2 separate regions of the Homo sapiens genome follow, and region 1 is linked to region 2. The links come from fine-mapping of genetic effects on gene expression. Tissue or cell type: tibial artery. Region 2 holds a variant in brackets; the other region holds the start of a gene. All regions are shown on one strand. Distances are between the middles of the regions.

The links. PIP is the estimated chance that this variant, and not a neighbour inherited with it, causes the effect.
Region 1: it holds the start of SNAP25, and the variant in region 2 is fine-mapped to the expression of SNAP25 in tibial artery (GTEx, PIP above 0.99). The same link has a PIP of 0.9 or more in aorta.

Annotation. Positions count from the first base shown.
Region 1 is chr20:10,217,648-10,220,416 of GRCh38, reverse strand. SNAP25 (synaptosome associated protein 25) reads right to left here and starts at 1,587. Exons shown (of 8, transcript NM_130811.4): 1 at 1,440-1,587. SNAP25-AS1 (SNAP25 antisense RNA 1) reads left to right here and starts at 911. Exons shown (of 5, transcript NR_040710.1): 1 at 911-1,180.
Region 2 is chr20:10,299,480-10,302,230 of GRCh38, reverse strand. The region is part of intron 7 of SNAP25 (synaptosome associated protein 25); the gene reads right to left. Among named protein-coding and RNA genes, the nearest start is that of SNAP25-AS1, 81 kb to the right of the region's middle. RefSeq lists an enhancer at 818-1,735. The variant C/T (reference allele first, on the strand shown) is at 1,509.

The sequences.
Region 1 (2,769 bases), 82 kb after region 2:
AATATTGTCAAAATCTAAAGCTATCAGCCTGCGATAACCAGTGCTGATAGCAAATACTTCCAGTAACTCTGAAACCGTGGCCAAAGAGGTTAAATCTATTCAGTACAGGACCAGTAAAATTTCTCAGATATGTGTTTTTGTGGATGAATGCTTGTATTCATGCCTGATTGCAAGGATGGGGGAAGAAGGAAAAGGAAGAGTGATTCATTCTTAAAGTTGATTCTGCTTAGTTCAGCTAATCTCACATTTTTATCAAATGGAAACATAGAGAGAGATGTATCATCCCTATAAACAGATAGCATTGGCTTCTTCATATATACAGTACTTATGCTCACCCAAGATCTGTAGACAGATCTACTCTGTGTTAAAAAACAAAACCAAACAAAAACCTTGATACCCTGCTGGAGGATAAATCCATATTTTTTAAAAAATGTATTTATTTTCTACGTAAAATAAGGGTCAGAGGGCAACACAGAAGATTTCCACAAGTAGACTATTTTGTTGAAGCTATGCAGGAGGTGAGGAGGGGAACAGGAAATTGTCTGCAAAGGAGTCTCTGTGAGGAAGATTTATTTCTTTCTTGTTTTCTTTTAAGCTACTATGACTCCTCTATTAAGGGTCTCCGTAAGACCGGGGTCTCAGGGAGACAATTTGGTCTCCAGCCCTGGCACATCCAGCCCCGGCCAGGCATTTCTGCCGCAGGCAGATGAGGCGCTGCGGCCGGACCGCTGTCCCCGGTGCTGAAAGGTCGAGGGCGCCCGCGCGAGCCCTCGGTGTTGCTATCCAGGGTGCTGAGCGCGGGCCGCCGCAGTCCCCGAAGCCAGCCCACCCGCGCCAGCCCTCCGCAGAGCCCTCCCACCCGGCACGACCCGCCCGCCTCCCGCCAGCCTGCAGTTGACGTGGAGCAGGCGGCATAAATCAAGTCCGCGGGGCATGGAGGCTGCTGTCGCTGCAGCAGCTCAGCTTGCCCGGGGCGGGAACTCCCCCTTTCTCCTTTCGCCTCCCCAGCACCCACACCCTGTCTCCCCCTTAATTCTTCCCTGGATAATAGCACCCTAACGACAACAGTCATAATAATAGGGTTAGAACGACAGGGGAGGAAAACTCAACAGCCTAAATATCTCTGAAAACTGCATCGCAAAATGGAAGAAAGAGGGGGTCCCACTACTGTTTCAAAAGAGTAAGTTATTATTCGGTACGTACCCTCGCTCTTCCTCCCCGTCGCTCCATTTGCAGGGCTCCCGTTTCCCTTTTCCCCAGCAGCTCACCTCGAAAACACTTTATAAAGCCCCCACCAGACGTGCACACACGGAATACCGCACCCTAAGTGCACCAATACTTGTATTTACCCAAGCCCACTCGGACTGCCCAGCTGCTGTCCCTTCTGGGTATGCAGCCATCCCGAGCCAGAGCCACGACCTGGGGAGGGGGGTTCTTACCTGGGCTTCTCGGGAGGGTTGTGTTCTCCGGGCCTCTGCAGGTTGCAACTGTGGTGGAGCCGCCGAGCAGGGAGGGAAGGAAAGACAGCGCCTGACCTCCCCGAGGTTTCGTCTTCAATGCAACGTGAGCTCTGCCCTCATCAAAGATGGCCGTCCGTTTTGACGTCAGCAGCTTTTAATAGCCGCCCAGCGAGGGGCGGGAGGAAGTGGGGGCGGGGCACGGCGGGGGCGGGGGCGGGGCCCGGGCTGCGGCGCGCTTGACTCGGTTCCCAGTGCGCTGGCCTGCAAACCTGCGTGTTTTCACCTTCTATAAACACCCGCACGGGGCGACTCTTATGACTCCATTTTAACACTCGGTCTTGGGCAAACGCGTTCATCCCGCAACTGCATTCCTGATGTTCTTTGGTGTGTGTGCGTGTGTGTGTACATATGTGTATATGTGTGTGTATGTATATATGTATGTGTGTGTATATTTTATAATACATGTATAATATATGTATAATTTGTGTGTATGTGTATATATTCCCCCCCACCCCCACCCCCACCCCCTTTCAGTGGAATCTGTGGTTGAGTCATCTAAGGAGAGGGGAAGGCAGAGGAGGGGTAAAAGGTAGTGATGGGAGGGGTGGGGGAAATTTCAGCGGCGATTTGTTTTCTCCGAAGAGGGTCCGTAGGGGCATCCCCGTCCACCCTCGCCAGCTCCATATATGGCCAGGCTACGTGGGTTGCTATTTTTATGAGTGATTGCTTCATGTTATCGAAGCAGCGTCGAGGGCTTGTGGCTCTCGTTGCTGTGGTCAGCCGGGCAGCGAGGCTGGCGCACGTTATTTTGAACTACGTCAGAGCCAGGCTCTCTGAGCTGTTGCAGGAGTCGGGGGAAGGAGAAGGGAAGCGGAGTTAGCCCAGCCAGCGTGGGTTTGCAAGGACTCGAGGCTTGAAGTTGAGTTGTTTGCCGAGGGCAAAAACGGATGACTCTGCTTTCGGTGGAATTTGCAGTCGGTGCTGGGGTTTCATGCTGGGTGTCTTAGGGGTACCCCACGGAGGCACAGACGCCCCGAGGGAACCGTCCAAACGGCCGGGAGGAGGTGGGGGATTCAGAGCAAGGACGGCTGGGACACGGCCGAATCTGGGGGTTCACTCAGTGCGCAAACCCCGGGGTACCCGTGCAGGCTGCCTCGGGGGGCCCTCGGATGCTCAAATCAGGGCGGGGAGACAAAGGCTACTTGTGCTGGTCGTATTAGAGATTAAAAGTGATAATTATAAAGCAACAACCCTAACTGTCCTCCCTGGCCGTGCCCGGGCCCGGGAAGGGGGTGGTGCGCGGATCGCT
Region 2 (2,751 bases):
AGATGGGATCTTGCTCTGTTGCCCAGGCTGGAGTGCGAGTGCAGTGGCACGATCATAGCTCACTGCAGCCTGGAACTCCTGGGCTCAAGGAATTCTCCTGCCTCAGCCTCTGGAGTAGCTGGGACTGCATGCCTAACTTACCACTGATAACTTTAAATCAAAGTTTGAACATTGCTAAGGTATTTCCTTAGCAACAGTTCCCATAAACCCTCTGATATAGGCTTGCTTCCAATTCAGTAAGTTTTCTGAAAAAATTATGTTTTTAACCTTAGAAGGTATATCTATATATGGTTATTTTTATATATGGTTTTTATATATATATAATAACCATATACATATAATATATATATTATATATTATATAATATATATAGTTATTTATTTATATATATAAGGTTATTATTTATATACATAAATACCCTTAAGCAGAAAACGAGATTTTTAAATAAAGTAATTTCTTGACAATCCATGAGGATGTATTGAAAATCTCATTGTTAAGGACTCCCAAAACTTCACTATTGATCCAAGTGATGAGAAAAGATCATGATTGATAGAGCTGGGTAAAGGTTGCTGTTGGGGTCATGAGAGATTATGAGAGAAACATCATAAGACTCTCCTTACCCCTACAGTGTGATTGCAATTACATCTTAGATATGCAGGAAACTTCCACATACTGTCCCGTTATCAGAAATGAGAACTTCAATGAGAAGGTGGAAATCTATTAATAATTGTGCAGTTCATGCGACATGATCATTTGGGGCAATGCTGGGTTGAAGTGGGCTCTATTTAAATCATGTGTGGATTTTGATTCTGGAAAAAAAAGGGGCTATTTAAAGTGCTGACTGGAAACTAGTTATTCAAAGGCAATTAGACCCTTCTCCCACTTAAATGATTCTGCACTCAAGGAATGATACAAATTGAAATAGTCATTATCCATCCACCTGCCTGGCTTCTGATTAAACCTTGTAGCTGCATATGTCTCTGTCTTTATAGTACACTGGGCGTAGAAGAAAAACCTTCTCCCTAAAGATGAGAACTAGAAATTCAAAGTGGCAGAATCAAGATGCCACTTGCCTTTCCAGGAACACATTTTCTTGCTTAAAGTTCAACTCTGTCAATAAGAGTTTGACCCTTCTATTAGTAAAGACGCTCCTTCTGGAACCCTAATTGGCTTTGATGCATTATCTAGCTGCATCTGCAAGTAAAGTGGGTCCATTAATAGAAAATGAATACTTCCTGTTTTTTTCAAATTGTTTTTTCTGTTGGAGGGCAGCTCAGCAATGATTTTTTAGTTCATTATTCTGGGCCGTAATGGGTTAGGTCAGCTTGTGTTGGCTCTAGTGAGTTTTGAAACTCTCATTATTATTCTAATATCTATTGATTTACACAGCTTTAAAAGCTTTATCATATGAAAGCCTTCTTAACAACGATAAGCATGCCATTACTTGCAAAAGTAAGCAAAGCACAAGTATTTTGCCAACCAACACTAAAGTTTGCGTAGTTTTCATA[C/T]TGATCAGGCAAAATATGCAATCAGATATTTTTAACATGGAGTATGTACAACACAACAGGACAAAGTGTTCCCTTTATGCCTACTTACTCCTTTTTCAAGTCATTGGAGGTTGCTTGCATACCAAGAAACTACTATTTAGATTTATGATTCTAAAAATCTTAAAAGTATCCTTCTCTGCTCACCAAAATGGAATGAATTATTATAAGAAAATTTAGGATATCAGACAAAGAACTTCAACGTCTCCCAGGGAATAAACACACAACATAAGTTACCCACATTGAGTAGATTATAGATGTACAATTATCGTTAAATCTATAATGTCTCTTTTTCTCCTTTTTAGCATTTGGACATAAGAGTTTGTAATCAATATTCAAGACCCTACTGATTGAGGAAAGGGCATGAAACATGGAAATATAAATTATGTCGGAGTTCTGTGTTGTAGAATATCAGGTTTTGGTGCCCTAGGTCTCTTTATAGGAACGTTCCAGTGTTTCTTTCCAATCTCTTCTAATTTTAAGCCCCCAAACCCACCCCTTCCCAGTCTACTCCCTCCAGTCTTTCTTATGGCCCACGTTGACATGGTGGATCTTAGAGCCAAGTCTGGTGTCCTTGTGTAAACTCAATTTCATCATATAAAATTCCCTGTTTTTAGAACTGGGGATGTGAACTGTTAAACTGGAAATGGAACCTGGATATTTTTGAATTCTCATTAAAGCTTTGGCATTTATAAAAGCAAAGCTCATAATCATGTCCTGGCTATACTGACTATTCTTTCTCCCATTTTCTGATTCTATCCCTTCACCACCTCCACTTGACAAACTATTAATACTAACCATCCTTCAAGATTCAATTCAAAGTCAACTTATTCTGAGATTTTCCCGAACTTTGCCTCTTGAGATCTTTCCTTATCTAACCTTGTTTAGCATTTTATCTGTGGATCTCTTAGTGAATTATATTTTGAGTGATAGAAAATTCATCTGGAGGCTCGTAGCCTCCCATAGGCCGTGAATTTCTTGGCAGTAGGGGTGGTGTCTTTCTCATGTGTACATGGCCCACAGTGCCTAGCACAATGCCTGGCTGACAGGAGCCTTTGAGAATATTTGCTGGATTAAATTTGACCCTCTTATTTTCACTCCAATTCTGTTGCTGAGTCCTATATTTTTCTCTTGGAAAATGAAGAACATTTCCAGCTATCAGTGCGCCTGAATCCAAGGTCGTGTTTTGAGGATCTTGTTATGCCCT